4 linked regions of the Homo sapiens genome follow. The protein of the gene in region 2 interacts with the protein of the main gene of each other region in a pairwise test. Each region holds a gene or a part of one and is shown on either strand. Other genes may lie near its edges.

Region 1 (4,270 bases), about 42 Mb from region 2:
CAACACCTGGCCATCCCACCTGCCCCCCAGCTCAAGGCTGCCCCCAGCTCGGACCCACCTGAAACCAGCCACTGGCCCCCAGGAGAGACACTGAGGCACCGGACAAGGTCACTGTGGCCCCTGTAGACCTGAGGAGGCGGCGGCAGTGAGGAGTCAGACTGGGAGGGTGCAACCCCAGCCCCCTAGTCTCCACTTACCAGGGCCTGGCACGTGGGGAAGGGCTGCAGGTCCCTCGGCCGAGGCAGCTTGGGGATGAGGTCCTCAGGGTCTACATTCACCTGGGGCAGGAGAGCGCCAGGTCAGCCTTGCCCCCTGTGCCACCCCCCTGGTGTGCCACCCCCACACACCCTCATCTTGCGCTGCCGTGGGCACAGGTACAGGTCAAGGCAGCGCTCGAAGCGTTCCTGGATGAAGCGTCCGTAGGCAGGCACGGCCCGCAGGCTCGGGAACTTGCGTGGCAAAAAGCTCAGCTTCCTCTCGCCTGGCTCCTGCTGTTCCCACGCCAAGCGCTGTGGAGACCAAGACACAGGGGTGGGGAGGGTCACAGGGAAGCATGGGGACAGGGTCCCGGCCCCCAGGATGCAGGCCCACCTCCTCCTCGCTGAGCAGGTATTCAGGGGGTGGGTTGTACGACTCGGCGTGGCCTGGCAGGGCCAGCTTGGGAGCAGGTACGTGCATCTTGTGGCGCCCGAGCACGGCGTTGGGGTCCTCCTGGGCCCACAGGTCATAGAAGCTGGGGGTGGGGTCTCGGGGCCGGCGAGGCTGGATCCAGCCCATCTTGATGGCGTGCACCATGCGAGAGACCTGCATAGACAGCCGGGTCAGGACGGGCAGTGCGGGGCGGTCAGCCCAGGCCAAGCCCCAGGGGCTGTGTGCCCCACCTTCTCCTTCTCCACCAGGGAGGGGATGAAGCTGCGCTTGTCGGCCGGGCGGTTGGTCACCGGGTGGATCATGACGTCCCCGCTGAAGAAGTCGACAGCCGGCTGGGGGAGAAGATGTGGGCGTGTGGGCCAGAGTGGCTGAGGCCCTGCTGGTGCCTCCAGGACCCCCGCCGCCCAGGGGCCAGCCCCTGCCACCTACCTCATAGGGGTTGAAGCCCACATCCCCAAACTGGCCACTCTGCAGCCGCCGCACCAGGGCCACCTGCTCATCCGTCAGTCTCAGGTCCCGCCCTGTCATCGGGTCCTGCACGGTGCGCCTGGAGACCGCCAGTCAGACCCCGCCAGCCCTGCCCCACCCCTCGGGCCCACCCCGGCTGCTGGCCCCACCCCACCAGCCCTCACCAGTAGTCAGGATCGTCCATCTTGTCCAGGAACTGGTCCAGCTCATCCCGGGTCCGCAGGGGCTTGTAGATGCGCCTGCCATCCAGGTCGTAGCCCACGTGGGGGAAGTCATCGTACCACTCCAAGGGCACGTTGCCCACCGTGTTCCGGATGTCCTGCAGCCGGGGGCCACCATGTCGGCATCTGATCCTACAAGGCCCACCCCCGCTTCGGGCCGCCCAGGGGAGCAGGTGAGGGGGTTGCAGGGGGAGTGCAGGCCCAGCCTCAAGTGCCCTGAGGTCACTGGCCCTGACCTACGCCTGTTCCCCAGCCCTGGGGTCTGACGTGGCATGGCGGCCACGCTGCCCCCACCCCCGCCCTCGGAGGCGCCGGAGCTGCACCTTCACATTTTCCACTGAAGTGGTGCCAACCCCAGAGCTCCCCCCTCACTGGATTCCTTGGCCAGGGCTCTGGGCAGCCACAGACAGGGATGACCTCATCACCCACGGGCTCCCTCCCCTGGCAGGGGCCTTAGGCAGAAGTGGGCAGCTATAAGACGGGGACTCGGGGAAGACCCCAACTGACCCATTCCACAGAGAGGCAGAAGCCAAGACCTCTCTGTGGGGGACCCCCCACCGTCTGCCCTCGGCCCCTCCCCAGGCAGAACAGCCACGTTCCTGGACGTACATTCCTGGTTGCAGCCCCTGCCAGCCGCCACCCTCGCTCCTTCCAGCCTGGGGACCGCTGCCCAGGAGGCTGCTTCCTGCAACAGTAGCCACGGGGAGGGGCCCAGGCAAGACAGAGCACAGCTGGGAGCCTGCCGGGCCCCCTGCTGCAGGAGGGACCCCTTGGGCCCTGCCCCCTGCTGAGGGTCCTTCCCTCTCCTCCCCATGGAGATAGGGGGCCATCCCCAAATTGGATAATGGGGGTATGTGTGTGCTTCCTGAGGGGCCTGGTGGCCCTGGAGAGGAACGGGGGAAGGAGGAAGGGGCAAGGAGACCGACGGGGTGAGAGGTCCACACAGCACAAGAACAGGGGACATGGCCAGCTAGCAGAAGGCACAGTCTGTGCCAAGCCTGGAGAGGCAGGTGCAGGACAGACAGGCGGAGAGACTGAGCTCTAGGCCCCTAAATACTCGCCTGTGCCCGCCCCCTGCACACGGCCTGGCACAGGCAGGCGCTGGCGCACATGGGAGGCAAAGACAGACAGGGTGCGGTCAGGCAGCAGGGCCAGGGCGGCTGGGTTAACTCAGTTGTGCCACGGGAGAAAACGGGGTGGTGGGTTCCTCCCCTCTCCCGGGGACGGGGGGCACTGCAGTTTTGGGGCCCTGAGTAACTACAGCCCAGAAGCGACCTCCCAGTTCCTCCGCATCCCCAGAGACGGAACGATGCCCCCAAAGACCAGCCCCGCCCCCCCCACCCCCGCCAAAGCGTGGCCACAGAAGGCCGAGGGACGCGGCGGGCGCTGCTCGAGGAGCCTCCGGGCTGAGAGGGGCGGGGCGTGCGCGGGGGAGGGGCCGGGACGCCGCTATAAAGGCGCAGCTCGGGGCCCCGCTCCGGCCCGGGACGCACATGTGCGCGCGACGCCCGGCAGCTGCCACCGCGGGGCGCAGCCGAGACCCCGCGCCTCGCCCCGGCCGGCCCGCGAGGCCCGCGGCGGCCGCAGGAGGCGGCATGAGCAGCGCGCGACAGAGCTGACGCCGCGCCCCCGCCGGCCCCATGTCCTTCGCCACGCTGCGCCCGGCGCCGCCGGGCCGCTACCTGTACCCCGAGGTGAGCCCGCTGTCGGAGGACGAGGACCGCGGCAGCGACAGCTCGGGCTCCGACGAGAAACCCTGTCGCGTGCACGCGGCGCGCTGCGGCCTCCAGGGCGCCCGGCGGAGGGCGGGGGGCCGGCGGGCCGGGGGCGGGGGGCCAGGGGGCCGGCCAGGCCGTGAGCCCCGGCAGCGGCACACGGCGAACGCGCGCGAGCGAGACCGCACCAACAGCGTGAACACGGCCTTCACGGCGCTGCGCACGCTGATCCCCACCGAGCCCGCCGACCGCAAGCTCTCCAAGATTGAGACGCTGCGCCTGGCCTCCAGCTACATCTCGCACCTGGGCAACGTGCTGCTGGCGGGCGAGGCCTGCGGCGACGGACAGCCCTGCCACTCCGGGCCCGCCTTCTTCCACGCGGCGCGCGCCGGCAGCCCCCCGCCGCCGCCCCCGCCGCCTCCCGCCCGCGACGGCGAGAACACCCAGCCCAAACAGATCTGCACCTTCTGCCTCAGCAACCAGAGAAAGTTGGTGAGCACGGGCCGTGGGGCGCCGAGGGGGGCCTCCAACGCGCCCCTCAGCCCACACCTGCCAGGCAGAGGAGGCGAGGCCACACGGGCAGGGCTCCCCAACAGGGCACAGGCAGGCACACCTGTAACACAGGCCTGCCGGGGGCTGGGGCCTTCTCCTGGGGCTCCTCTCCAGGGCGTCCCTAGGACACTCGGCTCCCAGTGGAGTGTGGAGTCCCCTGCAGGGAGCTGCATGAGGGGTAAGAGCTAGGGATGGCCAAAGGGGCCCACCCAGGGCGGGGAGGCTGGGGAGCTGGACCAGGCCGCTGCAAGCTTCCCTTTTCAGTAAGTTGAAAGGCGGAGTGAAAACAGCTGAGTTCAGAAAGTAAGAGGCTGCAAGGCAAGAGAGGAAGGACCCCGGGTTCTTAGCCCCTGCGGCCCAGCACTGGCTTAAGCCATCTTGGGCACCTGCTGTCCGTCCCCCACCTAGGCCGCACACCAAGACACCAGGTCCTGTAGGGCTGCCCGAGACGTGGGCCATGGGACACGAAGGCAGAGGCTGGCAGGAGATGTGGGGGCTGGGGGTGAGGGCCCCTGCAGGAGACGCTGGCCAGCTGTGATTTACAGCTCCTGCTGTGCTTGGTGGCACCGGAAAAGCAGGGTGAGCAGGGAGAAAATACGGCACGGCTTTTCCCAATCCCCATTTCCTCTCCAGACAGCACGCGCGAGCTCCTGGGGCCTGAAC
Region 2 (5,581 bases):
TGTCATCCAAATGACACACAGAAAAATGAGCAAATTTTTTTTTTTTTTTTTTTTACAACTCACACAACTTTCCAAATTAAAATCAGAAATAATTTTCCTCTCACACTTACTATGATACTAAGGAAGTTCAGCTACACTTGTTAGGTAGGTAACCCAAACCTCACAGTAGTGGCAATAAAATCTTCCTCATTTTTTCTGTTAACATTTAGACTTTAACACTGATAAAGCGATATCCGTTCATGGGAGAGAGGCACACCTACTACCATTAAGGGGACTAAGACGAAAATTATCAATGCATTTGTGATCCAAAAGGAGAAGTATTTGGCTAAGAAGAAAAGGAGTATTTTATATAGACTTTCCAGAGTAGCTACCTGCAACTGGAGTCGGGCAAAAAAACTAAGAGTGCGGCAAAAAATTTATCTTCTTAAATATTACAGGTATGGTATGAGGTCTTTTGAGGTACAAATTGCTGATAGAAAAAAAAAATAGCCAAAACCTTCTAATAAAGACAAAATGTAGTAGAGCTCTGGCCTGTTGTTATGGGTCTGACCTTTGGAAAGTCACTTTGCACTTTGGGATAAAAATCAAAAGATAAGGGATCCTCAGGGTATCTTTCAAGTTAAAATTGCATTATTTAAGATCTAAAATTTGATCACTTGATTATGGTAAAGAAAAATCAAGTGATATACATAGAAAAAAATTCTAATGTTTATTTTAATTAACTTTCAACCTCTTCATATTTGTGCTCCCTTTTACTGAATCTATTTGACACAATGGTTTGCCATACATAACTACAACATAGCTAATGCAATATTACTAAAAACTGGATAATCAAAAAATTTAATATTCTACTTGGAATTTGCAAAAACCGACTTTAAAAAGTCAGCATAATCAAAGTAGAATCTATTTTAATTCCTTAAAGAACTGCTTGATGACAAAATAACAGCACAGGTTTTGCACTTATTTGTAGAACTACCTAATGTTTTATAGTAAAGTTCTTTGAACTACGCTAAAAAAAAATGGTACTACTCACCATTTCTCCTATTTTCCATTAAAAGAAAACTGTCCAGACTCGTTTGGTCAAAGTAGAGATTGTGTAAAAATACCAAAAAACATTCTTTACGTTGCAAGGTATTATTCTCAATACTAGTTTTTCAAAAATGCATGATGCCTTCGTGTTGAAATCCTAAGAAAACGAGCCATTGCTCTTGAAATATCGCTAACAATATAATTGCATAATCGCGCCCGCCTTTATGTAAGCTGCAATGGACAGCGCGCGTGTGTGTAACAGCCCCAAGACGCCAATGCAAAAAAAGGAAAAAAGAAAGGCAGGCGGCAGGGAAAGAGAGCGTGAGCTGGGAAGGACAGGAAGGGAAACAGGGAGGGGAGGAAAGGGAGTGGGGCGCGAGGCAGGAAAGGGAAGCGCGGGCGGAGGCGCGGGCGGGGGAGGCAGACGAGGGGCGGGGGCGGACGGCGGGGGAGATCCTAGCTGGCGGAGACCGACGGATGGGGCCGCCCTAACCTCAATGAGGCTCACGGGTGAGTCACTGGGAACATTCCTCGCCGCTCGCACGTCCCCGCGCCCCTGCCCCCGCCATTGGCCGGCCGGCTCGGCGGCCCGAGCCCGGATTGGCTGTGCGGCCCGGGGCGGGGGCGTGGGCGAGGAGGGGGCGAGGCATGTGAACAAAGCGTGATCAGCGGCTGCTCCGGGAGGCGCAGGAAACGTGAACTGGGAATTGCCGCGCCGTCACCTTTCCCCTACTTCCTGAGCTTGCGGGCCCCCGCCCGCGCCCGACCCGGGGGAGGGGCCGCGGGCGCCGCCGCCAACCGCCCGGCCGTGCGCGCCGGGCCCGCGGGGAGGGGCGGGGCTGCGGGCGCCAGGCTCCGGGAGGCGCCCGCCCCTTCCAGCTCCCCGCGAGCCGCCGTTCCCTTAGGAACCGACAGCGGGGCCGGGCCTCGCTCCCGCCCCTGGCGGAGGCCGGGGCTGGGTCACTCGGGGACGAGAAGCTCCCCGGGCGCACCCGCTCCCGGCCCACCCCCGGCCTCCGCCTCAGATGCGGGAGGAGGAGCCAGGTCCCCGCGGAAACCCGGCCGCCGCCCTCCTCCCGCCGGCAGCCCCCGGGAACCCGGCCGAGCCCTCGGCACTTCCCGCCCACGCGGCCCACGGGACCTCAGACCACCCCGTCTCTCCCTGTAGACGCGGCGCCCCCTCCCCGTGGCTTCCGGCAGCTCCAGGCCCCTCCCGCCGCGCGTCTCCACGGGTTCCCAGACGTGCAGCCCCCACAGGCCCCGGCTCCAGACGCGCGGCCCCCGCGTCTCGCGGCCCAGCTCCCCCCGCCCACCTTCCCGCCCCAGCTGCTGGGTCCCGCTTCCCACCCTCCTGCCCCAGAGGCGGCTCCCCGCCTCTTCCAAGGAGTCGTCAGAAGGCGGCCACCTGCCCCTGGGGTAAGAGTCCCCCTCCAGACGTCTGGGGGAGCAACTCGTCCCCCAGGGCTGTCGGCGGGCCCTCGTGTCATCCCCCCGCTCCGACGACAGGCGCCCCTTCCCCCAGCCCCGAGCTATCTGCTGAGCAGCCCCCGTCTTCCAAGCGTGGGTTCAGACCCCCAGGATGGGTAGCCCACTCGCCTCTCCTGTGGACACCCCGCCTCCCGAGTGCTTGCGAGCAGCCCCTTCCTCCCCTGGCTCGCGTTCCTGAGCCAGACCGGGCATCTCTCCTCGGTACCAGGTGAGGGTAGCCCCCTTGTCCCTCCCGCGACTCTCGTTCCACACTGTACCCCAACCTCGCTGCAGGGCAACGGCCCCCTCCCCACTCCTCCCCCGCTCGTCATCCTCCTCCTCACCAGCCCTCTCGGGTCTCCATGCGGAGTTGTCCCTTCCCCTCAGTACATCTAGAGCAAGACCCCTGTCCCTGTCTGAAGATCCCAGCCCCCTGGTTCGACCCCCTCCCGAACACACACGCCCTCACTAATGCCCATAGTCTGCAGGCAGGAAGCCCTTTCCTTCCCCACGACTCCGCTGCAGCCCCAATTCTCAGGCATGGCTGATGTCCGGGGCTCGGGGTTCGCGCCCCCTTTGGCCCCCCAGACAAGACCAGGCGAGGAAGCACAGGGGCATCCCCAAATGACTTACCGCAGTCTGCTGGAGAGAGGCACCGAAGTTGAGCATGGTTGGCTGCTTGGCCGCCGGCGGCAAGCTGACTGGCTGCTAGGCTGCTGGCTGCTTGGCCACAGACGGGCGCACGGAGACACTCGACGCCGCTCCCGCCGCCGCCGCGCTCAGCGCCGTCTGCCCCCTCCCCATTCAGGTAGCCGCTCAGCCTGCCCCGCGCCGCGGGCGGGGGTGGGGGCGGAGCCTGAGGCCGGCCAATCAACGGCAAAGGTGTGTGAGGCGCCGGCCAATGGGCTCGCGGGGCCACGCGTGATCGGCGACTGCCCGGCAGCGTGAAGCTGGTGTCAGTGGAGCGTGTACACAATCCCCGGCAGCGTGTTCCCTCTGCCCTGCCCCGGGGAACTCCAGAGGCCACCTGATTGAGTGACGCCCCCCGCCCCTCGCCCACCCCTCGCCCACTCCTTGCCCCTCGTCCCCCGCCCCTGCCTAGAGAGGCGGTGCCGCGGCCGGGGAGGCGCGGCGACTGCAGCGCGCCCAGGCACTGCGGAGGGCCAGCCCCACGTGGGGGGTGGGGAGGGATGCCCGCTCCGCCCCGTCCCCTCCGCGCCGGGCCTCGTCTCAGCCCGCCACGGAGTGGGCGGGACGCCAGGCAGGCGGGGGACGCGGCGGCTGCCAGCCAAGGGGCCGGAGCCAAGAGATTTGCATTGGAAGCGCCATCCTCTTGCGCGTCTGATGAGGAAGCAGAACCCGGTGACCGACTGAGCTGCATTTCTGAAGCATTTGCTGGGTTTTGCCTCACTAAGCCTCGGGGAGCACTGGGGCGCGGGATGGGGGACCCTGTCACGGAGCCGACACCTGCTCGCGCGCCTCTCCCCCGCTCACGCCGTGCCGCGGGCTCGCCCTCCCCATCTGCAGCGCCCGCAGCGCCTGCCCGCCCCGCCCATCCTTCCTCCTGGGCAACCCAGAGGATGGCGTGAGGACTCCTGGAAGCCCAGAGGACCGGACCAGGGGCGTGGTGGGGAGCCGTAGACCCGAGTTTTTATCCTTCTCTGGCGCCGACACTCGGCTGCGGAATCGAGTTTGAGCTCGGTGTAGCTGAAGTTTAAATTGTAGCTGTTTCAAAGGTAGACCCCACCTCACCCCCACCCCTGGACCAAGACCTCTGGAAGCGTCCTGCCTGGAAGCCGCTTGTGGGGAGGGCTCTCCTAGGGTCTCCAGGCTCCCGCTGGAGCACGCCTGGAGGTGGGTTTGCCGGCCGTTCCCTGAAACTGGCACCACTACCGCCCCACCCACCCACTCCAGCTGGTGGGAGGCAGGCTGGGTTTCTGAAAGGAAGCCGCCCGTGTGCTGCGCCTGGGGGCTGGGGCTAGGCCTTCTGATCAGGAAAGCCCATGGCCCTGCTTTGGCACGGATTTGCCCCCGTTTGGCCGTTTGTGCGTGATCACAGCAGCTGTTGTTGGAGAGGAAGGCAGTGATAACGGGGCTTAAAGCAAATCGGAGATCTTATCCGATTTGGACAGGCTGAATTTAAGGCAAAAATCACTGTCTCTCCTTCGAGCACTCACGTCTCTGTAACTGAATGAAAGGCTGGTAATGCAAATAGCATTTCTATCCCAGTAATCACAGAATGAACACAGGAAGGGAATTAATTCTTTTAGAAACTGCCAATGCTATGCGTATCTTCCGATGGTTTTTTTCTAATGTATCTAAGGCCCAGGCTAGCGAACAACAGCAATAATAATGATAGTAATACTGTTGGCCAGGACCAGAGAGGCCCAGGGCTGCGGGGATGAGGAGGGAATGGCCTCCTGTCACCGCCCCTCCTGAGTCTGCTGGAGAGGCGCCAGCTCAGCAGCCCGGCAGCTCTTCCTGCCTCTCCCCACCCCATGTCCCTGCTTCTGTCTGCGGGGTGTCCCTCCCCACAGGTTTCCTTCCGCCTGGGCTGTCCCATCCTGTTGACCCAGCCTGAGGGCTGGAGCAGTTGGCCCTGGACACTGTGGCGGGAGAGGAAGCTCCTGTATGCCCCTCCGGCAGGCCTACCTTCCTTCCTGTCGGGCCCTCCCCTGGGGTGGCTTCTGCTAGACCCTCCAGGCCAGAACCCTGTCCCTTCCTCAGGAATGTGGGGCCTGCTGGCCTGGCTCCCCAGCGGGCTAAGAAGCAGGGAGCGGTCTTGACTTGTGAGAGTGATTCAAAACAGGAAAGAAAAGAGAAAAGGGGTAGGAGGAACAGTGTGGTGGTGGCACAATTCCTAGAGATTCAGAGAAACATGTTTGCCGGGCTCCTCAGACAACATATCCAAAACTAGAATTGCTGATTCTACTCCTTCCCGGATGCGTGCCTTGTCTCCTTCCAGCCTTCACCTTCTCTCTCAAAGCCCTGGATCTGATTGTTCCCCAGGACCCAGCAGTTTTGCCTCAGAAATGTCTCTGTTCTCACTTTCCATTTCTACCCTCCAAATGTTGCACTAGATCAA
Region 3 (3,676 bases), on a different chromosome or scaffold from region 2:
TGGTGGCGCACACCTGTGGTCCCAGCTCCTTGGGGGCTGAGGTGGGAGGATCACTTGAACCCAGGAGGTGGAGGCTAGTCATAGCGAGCTATGATTGTGCCACTACACTCCAGCCTGGGCGACAGAGCAAGACCCCGTCTCAAAAATAATAATAATAATAATGCAAAGCAAAGTCACCTTCTCACCCAGTGCTTTTTGTTTTAGAAAATATTATTTCTCACAAAAATGCTCTCTATATTAACATGTGATGAATTTATCACTATGGAAGTGAATTAAGTATTTTTAATGTTCTCAGTTTTAATTTATACTATGGTAAAAGATCAAAAGATATAATCCTTCTAAACAAAAGCCCTTTGGGGTCCTGAATAATTTTAAGAATGTAAAGGAATCCCAAGACCCAAAAGCTTGAGAAGGCTGCCCACACGAGGACCGTGAGGGTCACTGAGGGGGCTCAGCACAAACCTGCTCAAATAAGCTGATCTGAGCCTCCTCCAGCCACATGGTGAGCTCAGTGGAGAGCTAGCACCACGTCACTGAGTATTTTGGATCTCCCAGAGACCCCTGTGCTGTGCTAGGCATGTCTCAATAGGTCCCACCCCCAAACTTTCTGAATTCCAAAGAATTTGCCCAGGAGCCCTGGGCCTAGTGCACGAGTGAACCACACATTTGCCACTTGATGGGCACAGGCCCCAATAGATGTTGCCTGACAACCCGTGTTCCCCCTGTCTCTGACAGACCTCACTCCTTCCGGGATCAACCACTTCCCCATTCTCAGTCCCCGTAGTTTCAGAAGGCTCCAGAGGCAGTTGCGTGACCCAGATCCGGATAGAATGATTGGTTTCGAGTTAATCATATGAGCCAGGCAGGATCCAGATCACAGCCAATGATCGCATGTCCCAGTTTCTTGCTGAGAACATTGGGAGAAAAGAGCCCCCCTTTCTCCTAGAGCTACCGAGCTGGTGGGATGGAAGCCCAGAGCATCTGGGGGCACCGCCACTCAGATACAGCTTACCTGAAAGTTAAGCCAACTCAGAACCAAGTGATGGGGATGAATTCCAGATTCTACCATTTGAGCCCTTAAATGCAGCTAGGCCTGGCCTTCTCAGTCACTCGGGCCAAGAAACTTATCTTTTTCTTAAACAAGTTTGAGTTGAGTTTCTCTTGCAGCTGAAAGAGTCCAAATGAATAAACACAGGGAACCAGAACCACCACGCAGATGGTGGGGAGGCCGCTGGGAGGATTTGAGCTGTCCACTAGAGGCATCGCTGAAGCCCACCTGGATCTCTGGAGAGGCCCCTTTTTGCCCACCAGAGACATGGCAGACCCCTGTCCGAACAACACAGATAGATAACGGCACAGAGTTTTCTTTAACTTTATCATTTATAAAGCCATACAATGCATTGCAAAGAAACAAAGCAGCTGTACAGGAGTGGGGACGCGTCAGTGTACAATACATTCATGTCCAGGATAAGGAGCATACACCAGGATTTATACACGGTGGCAGCGGCTATAGGCACGATGATACAAAATATAAAGTATATTTCCATCTATATAAATACACAGCTGGGGTGGGGAAGGATGCTGGGTGATCTTGTTTCCCCCGCAGAGGGCCTGGGAGGCAGGGAGGGTGGTGGGAAGGGATTTCTTACATTTGTTCTCAATGATGGGTCTGAAGGGAGGAGAGAAATGGGGAAACACAGCCTGCACACACTGATGTGCTCTCACACACACGCACAAACAAAACACAGACACAGGAGAGTTTCAAACAGCTTAACACTGATTGGAAAACAAGCTTGGGACATCCCTCTACAGTAACTCCACTGCTGGCAAGAGCCCAGGCGTGGGATATGAACAGAGGTCCTCCAACATTTTGGACATTTGAGGACAGAGGTGCCAAGAGGGACAGATCTGCCCGAGGCCCCCACCCTGCCCCTCTGGGTGAACCACTTCTCACCTGGGCTATCGCTGAGACTCCACCAATTGGTTGGCCTACAGGCCTCACCTCCCGACTCCCCTCACTGCTGGGCGACATTGAATTTGAAGTTCCATTGCCCAGCACCTCCAACCCCGACTCCCAAGTTCCCTAAAGAAATGAGCAAAACACACGCACACACATACATCCACACTTGCACATGCGCACACACGTCCTGTGTTACCACTGGCCAAGGAAACGCGAGTCTCAGGATTCCAGGGCCTGGACCTGGGGTAAAGGGCTGCTCTGGGACTCTGCCCCCCAACCTCTTGGAGGACCCCGAGTGTGGGGGCAGGATTGGGTGTCTGCCTTGACTCACAGGATCTCCCCAGGTCCTAAAGCTGAAAAAAAAAGTGGGAGAAGATCCAGGAGGCAGGGGTGGTGGACAAAAGTAGGAGTGAGACTAAAAAGTGGGAGTGAGACTAGATTTGATCACACTCACCACCCTTCTGTGCCCCCTGGACAGCATGCTCCCCTGGAGCCCCTGCACAGGCTCATCAGAACAAGGCAGAATCTCCTACTCACTAACCTCCTGAGAGCCGTTTATAGGGGGATCACACTTGTCCAGGAGGGCTGCCCCTCCTGCTTTCACACAACCACTGGCCCCACCATCCCTCTCCTGGCCAGTCTCAGAAGACCCAGGGATCCTCAAAAACCAGGGGAGAAGGAATCCTGGCCATTGGTGTCCACAGCTTTCAGAGCTACTGGAGGAGACGCTCAGATGACATGGGTCAAAGGCCTTTCCCAAACTTAGGATGTGATGTATCTGTCCCTTAAGCGCCTGGCTAAATAAGAGAGCCAGAACACCGTGATAGCAGGCTGATCAAACCGCTCACTTCCTCCCTGTTTTCCTTCGCAGGTCCCCTCTCCATTGTTTTCTCGCCCAATCCTTCCCTCTTGCTCCCTTTGGGAAAAAGCCACGTGGAGCTCACTGGGCCCCTCCCCCAGCTGAAGGGACATGACCCTCCTCTGCCCTCTTCCCTCCAGACACCCAGCTGGACAGCTGGTGGCAGCACGGGACTGAACCTGCTGGGGTCTGCGTCGCTGCGATGTCCATGACTCCCTGGCTCTTTGTTGCCCATCTTCTCCCAGACCCTTTCCCATCCCAGCCCATGTTCAAGGCCAGACAGCGCTCTCCTGGCTGACACACAGATTCAACAATAAACAACAGTAAAATAGATTCAGGGAGGGAGAAGACAGAAGAAGATAAACATTTACAAAATAATAATTAGTAAAAGTGCTTGCTTTTAAAGGAAATCTTTGGCAAGAATATACTGCAGTGCGGAGTGTTGTGTGTGCGTAGGTGTGTGCATGGGTGCACAGCCCGCCGTGACACAGAAGGGCTCTGGTGCAGGGCCCAGAGGTGGGGCCACTGTGGGGACTGGGGAACCCTTCCCCATCATTCGCCTTGAAAAGTCACACTCTCAGAAACTGACTCCTTCCGCAGGGATGCTGGGAGGGAGTTACCAGCTTTCTGGCATGAATGGGTCCTCCCGCAGGGGCACACATGGCTCAGGCTGGAGTGGAGGGGCTGGCCATGCATGCAAGGTGGGCTGTGGTGGGTGGTGAGGAAGGGAAAAGCGACCGTGAAAGCTGACCCCAGACTCAGTCCTGGGCCCCAGCCAGGCTGCTTGAAGGGTCTGATACACCGCCCAGCCTCAAGTGTGGACAGAACATCCATGCCAGGAATAGGCTCCTGGGCTC
Region 4 (5,519 bases), on a different chromosome or scaffold from region 2:
GGCTTGTGGCAGAACGGCTTCCCGTCATGCTGCGCAGAGGGGCGCGGGTCAGGACCCTGCCTGAGGGTGGCGGGAGTCGCGACCCCCGCCCCCGCCCGCGCCGCGCAGTGGGGCTCACCTCGGCGTGGCCCCCGGGCGTCAGCGTCTTGCTGCAGCGCTCGCACTTGAGGCAGAACTTGTGCCAGTCCTTCCCCAGGGAGCTCACCTTCTCGGCTGAGCGGGAGGGGCGGCAGGGGGGTCAGGGCCGGGGCGCGCCCCGCACCCCCTCCGCCCCCACCTGGCAGCCACCACCCCCACGCGCTCCGGGGGTCCCCACTTTCAGGAGGTCTCCCAGGCGCCTTCCTTCCACCTGGCGGGCCCTGCCCCTCCTTCTGAGACCCGGAGGAGCCCGTCGCCCCCAGGCCCTGTTCTCCCTCTGGGTCTCAGCGCCCCCAGCCCTGGAACCCCGCTAGAGCCGCCTTTGAGAAGGGGCCCGGGGCTGCCCTGTTAGTCCCCTCAGTGCCTGCGGTGAAGGGGCCTGTGCTCGAGCCTGCCCGCGCTCCAACACCTGCCCGCGCTCCAACACCTGCCCGCGCTCCAACACCTGCCCGCGCTCCAACACCTGCCCGCGCTCCAACACCTGCCTCCCGGACACCCGCCTCACACCCGCCTCCCCCACACGCCCGCCTCCCCCCACAAATCTGCCTCCTCCCACACACCTTCCTCTCACACACACACCCGCCTCCCCCACACGCCCGCCTCCACACACCCGCTTCCCCCCACACACACCCGCTTCCTCAGACACACACCCGCTTCCCCCCACACACCTGCCTCCCCCCACACATATGCATCTCCCCCACCTGTCATTCCCTCAAACACTTCTCTTACACTCACACACCTGCCTCTGCAGTGCACCTGCTTCAACACATGCTGCTCTCCCTCTCACACCTGCCTCGCACTGACACGCCCCTGATCCCCACCAACTGGGCCCTGATGGGGCTGGCAGCACCCCGCTGCTGAGTCAAAGGTGCAGCCCCAGAACCTCCAGCTCCCTCATGGGAAGGCCAGGCCCCGTCCCCGTGGGTCCTCCAGGCGGGACCCTCATCTGTCTGTGGATTCCTCGTCCTAAACCCTGAGCTCTCCCCCCGCCGTAATGCCCCTGGCTGCCACTGGCATGGAAGATCTGAGGGCAGCTGCTGAGGGTCCGGGACCCTCTGCCACTGCCTCCCACCCCCACACTGGGGCTACTGGACTGCTTCCCAGTGGATGGAAGCAGGGGCCTCCCTAGGGAGCCAGGCAGGAAGAGGTGGGGAGGGGCAGGAAGGGCCCAGCAGAGCCGGAATTCTGAAGGGAAGGGGACAAGCTGCAGGCCCTGGGGGGAGGGAGCATGCAGGCTGGGCCCACCCTGCCCGGCAGAATCTGGCCAAGCCCCTCAGGTGGCCGAGGACCAGTGGCTCTCCCAGCTCCCTTTCTCAGCAAGTGGCCCAGCCCCCTTTGTCTGGCAGATATCGGGGAGGGGCATCTGGCTAGGGCGAAGCCCACTCTGAGAGGCCCAAGGGTGCTGCTCCTGGCAGTGAGATGGGATCCCCCAGGTGGCCTACTAGGTAGAGGGCTGTGAATACTGGCTCTCCGTGGCCCTGGTACAACCCTCTGGGCATGGCCAGGGCCAGCCTCCAGGACACCAGCCCAACCACAAGGCTGCACCAGCTTAGAGCCCTCTGACCAGAACCACTCCACTCAAGGAAGCTGGGACACACCAGGGCAGGCAGGGGCTGGCTGCACGGTGGGCAGGCGTGTCCCAGCAGCAGCAAGGAAGTCTCGGTGGCTATCGGCCGTGGCAGCTGCAGCCCAGGGCTGCCAGCACTGTGCTCTGGCCAGCTCTGGGACGTGGGCCAAGTGGGGGCAGGGAACTGGCCCTCAGACCCACTGGGTGGGTCAATGGCCACACATTACGGGTCCGAGTTGGGAACACAGAATCGATTGGGTCTAATGGCTCAGAAGAAAACCAGCTGCCCACCCTGGCTGCATGGGCTCTGGGGTGGCCTCCTCAATGTGCTCCGACATCCCAGCCTGGGTTCTACTCAGGTATGAGCTGCGGGGGCAGCCTGGTGTGAGGGTGGGCAGGATTCTGGACCCTCGCCCTCACAGTGCCTCCCAGGCAGGACAGAAGCCAGCCGGGTCTGAAGCGCCTTTGTTTTCCGCTGAGAGGCTGGGCGGGCCAGGCAGGCAGGCCTTTCCGGGCTGTCCACAGGACTGTTGGCCGAGACCCTGGAGAGCCCCAGGCTGGCCTGGCCCGGCCTGGGGTAAAGTCATGGGCAGTTGGACTGCAGAAGGGCCCTGGGGACCGTCTCCCACCCTAAGCCTTACAGAGACAGCCCTCGCTGGGACAGAGACTGAGGGCTGAGCGGGCTCCAGGAGAGGCAGCCGGAAGCCCCTCGGCTCCCAGCCACGCCAGAAGCACTCCAGGCCAAATCCGGTCCCTCCCCTCTGGGACGGGCAAAATACAACCTCCCCTCAACCCCCTCCAGCCTGTGAGCCGGGGAAGCCCAGTGGCGGCCTTCCCTGCAGCCTGGCCGCATTCTGGGTATGGGGCGACCAGGGCAGGCGCCCTGTTGGTCCCGGCCCTCCTCTCTGCTTCACTAAGTCTGCCCCCCTTCGTGCAGCAGCTGGTGGGTAGGTGGGCAGGGACCTTACCACCCTGGAGAAAGCTGGGCAGCGAATCAGCCAGGAGGAAGGGGGTAGGAAGGGCGCACCCAGGCCCAGAGAGTGAGTAAGCCCAGACGGGGGGAGCGCGCCTGCCGGAGGGGCTAGACCGAGGGCCGCCTTGCGAGACATCCCTCTTCCCGCCACCACCTGCATCCTGTCCAGGGCTGTTCTGACCTTGAGGAGGCAGGGATCCTGGACACCTGGGCTGCTTGAGCACAAGGTCCCTCTCACGTTCGCGGGAACTCGCGTGTCACACCCGCCCCCACCCTACCCCCGTGTGAAACTCCTGGGGGAACTGGCGCCAAGGGAATGCGTCGGGACAAGCAGGAGGCAGAGGCCAAGGTCGCCCCCGCTTGGACTGAATCCCGACAGAGTCCAAACCTGGCCCAGCCCAGCTCAGCGGAGCCCGGAGTGGGAGCTGGGGGTCACTGTTCCCGGCCACTTGTTCCCGGGGGAAGCGGGTGTAGGGGGTCCAGGAGAAAGGGCCCAGGCCCACGGGAGCGCGCGGGACGCACCCGGGGCGTACAGCCACGCCCTGCCCCGCCCCGCCCGGCGCCGTCCGAGGAACCGGGATGCGTCCGCGGATCCCCGAGCGCTCCCCCAAACACTGGCCTCATCCCGGGGCACCACAAGCCCCGCCCGGGTGGTCCCTGCCCCGCCCCCACAAGCCGCTTCGGGGTTCGGGCGTGACCGCCCCCGCTTTCGCGCAGCCCCACCCTTTGGCTTTAGCCGCTTGGGCAGCGCGGCCAGCCAGCCTCCGGGACGCGCATCCTCGGTCCGGGGCCGGGGCCGGGCGCACCCCGAGTTACGCCGCGGCTCTGCGGCGCGGGACTGGCCGCGAAGGGCGGCGGGATGCACCGAGCGGGCCGGGAGCGGGCACGCACTCACCGAAGTACACGGTCTTGTCGCACTTGGGGCATTTGGAGGCCATGGTCGGTGCGCCCGGTCGGCCCGCGCCCTCCGCCCGTTCTCCTCCGGGCCGCCGCCGCCCGCGCCCAGCCCCGCCTGCCCGGCTGTCCGCGCGCCCATTGGCTCCGCGGCCGGGGCGGGGCCTCGATAACCCGTCCCCCGGGCTGGGGGCCGCCTGGGGGCGCCGCGGGGGCGGGGCGCACCTGCCGGGGGTGGCGGGTGCGGGGCAGCCGGGCCAGGCCTGGCGCCCCCGGGCCCCTCGCGCCGGAGGTGGCGTCTACAGGGGCCCGCCCGGGCGACCGCGGCGCCGCCCGCGCCCCGGCTGTTTCCATGGCGACGTCGGGGCCGCCTGGCCGGGCCGTCCCCGGGGCGGCGGGCAGGGTGCGGGGAGCCTGGCCCTCGGCTCTCGGGGAGCCCTAGTGACTTGGGCCTAGGGGTCCAACACTCCCGGCCCTGGGCGCCCAGGCTGCGCTCCGCCGCGGGAAGGGGTCGCAGGCTCCGGGAGAACCCCACCCCCACCCCGCCGCGCGCGGCGCCTGTCCCGCTTCCCTTTGTTGCTCGGTTTCCATAGCAACAGCCGCGCCGCGGGAGCGGAGTCAGATTCCCGGCGGGCACGGCCCCCAGCCCTGTCCGGGTCTCCATGTCCCGCTCCGCCCCCGCCCGCGCCCCGCCCCAACACTGTCTGTGGTGCTGAAGGCTCCTTGGGTGGAGGGCAGGGCTCAGGAAGGAAGGCGCCGCCACCTCCAGAAACAGCTCGAGAAGCTGCTGGTAGGGGGTGTGGGGAGGTCTGCGTCTGCCTCCCAGGCAGGGAAGGGGCGGCGGGCACCAGCGCCGAGGGATCCGCGCTTAAGGCGTCCACCCCAAGCACTTCCACCCAGGGGGCGGCCGGGGAGGCGGTGAGGAGTTAGGAAGGGAAGGAGGGGAAGGAGTGGGCGTGCCCTCTGTGCCCCGGGCTGGGGCTGACACTCCAGTCCCTTCTCCCGCACCGCCCAGGACCAGCTGCGTGCCTGGGGGCCCAGGGCCTGACCTCGAGGGGTCAGGCGGGAGATTGAGGGGTCATGCCAGTCACCGCACCCCCACACCCCCACTCTGGCCTCCTCCCAACCAGGGCGTGCCTGACCACGCCTCACCACAGTGCCTCCGCCCTAGAGCCCCGTAGAGCCTGGCCCCAGGTGGGGAACCTCCGCACCCACGGGCTTCCTGGTGCTCTGTCCCCATGGGCCCTTCTCTGAGCCTTCTGGCCCCAGCTGAGCGTCGGCCTGGGAGACAGGCAGATCCCAGAAGCCCAGTGATCAGGCCCTATGGGGGCAGCTGACTCTGGACACCCTTCCCCCTGTGTCTTGGAGGCTGTGGGCTGGACACGGAGACCTACCTGTTCCCTCTGCCTGGTGCACCAGGCATGTTTGTGAGCCAACCAGAGGCCCTCGGTGCTCCTGGCTTTCATGGTGGTCCTGGCTGGGCTCTCTGTGGCAGCACCCTCCTCCCTTGCACACACACCCTGCAGCCACTGCCATTTCCATGGTGACAGCAGGCCAGAAACATGCCCCCCGCCCCCCCGCCCGACTGACCAGCCTGACCAGCTCCCCCTCTGCACTTGGGACCTGTGCCAGCCAAGGCAGAAGATGGTGAGGAGGCATCAGTCAGTACCTTTTCTGGGCAGCCCTTCCTCCCTGGCAGGCCCAGGGGTCCCTAGGGGTCCCTCACAGCAGGGCCTTGCCCAGGCTGGATTCATGGGCCCACTGCCAAACCCTCTCCAGCTCCCTGCCCTGTTCTGCCCAGCTTGGGAGCCTGGGGCTAAGCCATTACCCTCCCTGACTTTGCTACCTGTGGGGCTTGCTACCTGTGGGGCTTGCTCTGGAGGACAGGGCTGGCTGAACACAGGGCTCTTCTGGAGGGAGACCACCTGCCCCAAGGTCCCCAGCCCT

Evidence for each region. The genes of interacting proteins can lie anywhere in the genome.
Region 1: the proteins of KLF10 (region 2) and BOP1 interact in a two-hybrid assay, tested with the Homo sapiens proteins (one large-scale study listed by BioGRID and IntAct).
Region 3: the proteins of KLF10 (region 2) and TNS1 interact in a two-hybrid assay, tested with the Homo sapiens proteins (one large-scale study listed by BioGRID and IntAct).
Region 4: the proteins of KLF10 (region 2) and CRIP2 interact in a two-hybrid assay, tested with the Homo sapiens proteins (one large-scale study listed by BioGRID and IntAct).

The regions. Positions count from the first base shown.
Region 1 is NC_000008.11:144,263,634-144,267,903, forward strand, and holds part of BOP1 (ribosome biogenesis protein BOP1), read right to left. Parts: intron 3,548-4,270; coding exon of another isoform or gene 2,981-3,547; exon of another isoform or gene 2,820-2,980; intron 1,439-2,819; coding exon 1,284-1,438; intron 1,199-1,283; coding exon 1,081-1,198; intron 984-1,080; coding exon 882-983; intron 805-881; coding exon 592-804; intron 510-591; coding exon 348-509; intron 279-347; coding exon 198-278; intron 129-197; coding exon 59-128; intron 1-58. Other genes in the region: SCX (basic helix-loop-helix transcription factor scleraxis), read left to right, coding at 2,981-3,547. UniProt on the Homo sapiens protein: Component of the PeBoW complex, which is required for maturation of 28S and 5.8S ribosomal RNAs and formation of the 60S ribosome.
Region 2 is NC_000008.11:102,652,437-102,658,017, forward strand, and holds the start of KLF10 (Krueppel-like factor 10), read right to left. Parts: upstream 3,290-5,581; 5' UTR 3,166-3,289; coding exon 3,130-3,165; intron 1,308-3,129; exon of another isoform or gene 1,037-1,307; coding exon of another isoform or gene 1,034-1,036; intron 1-1,033.
Region 3 is NC_000002.12:217,798,433-217,802,108, forward strand, and holds the end of TNS1 (tensin-1), read right to left. Parts: 3' UTR 1,359-3,676; downstream 1-1,358.
Region 4 is NC_000014.9:105,472,960-105,478,478, reverse strand, and holds the start of CRIP2 (cysteine-rich protein 2), read right to left. Parts: upstream 3,659-5,519; 5' UTR 3,617-3,658; coding exon 3,574-3,616; intron 2,621-3,573; exon of another isoform or gene 1,737-2,620; intron 1,237-1,736; exon of another isoform or gene 878-1,236; intron 214-877; coding exon 119-213; intron 30-118; coding exon 1-29.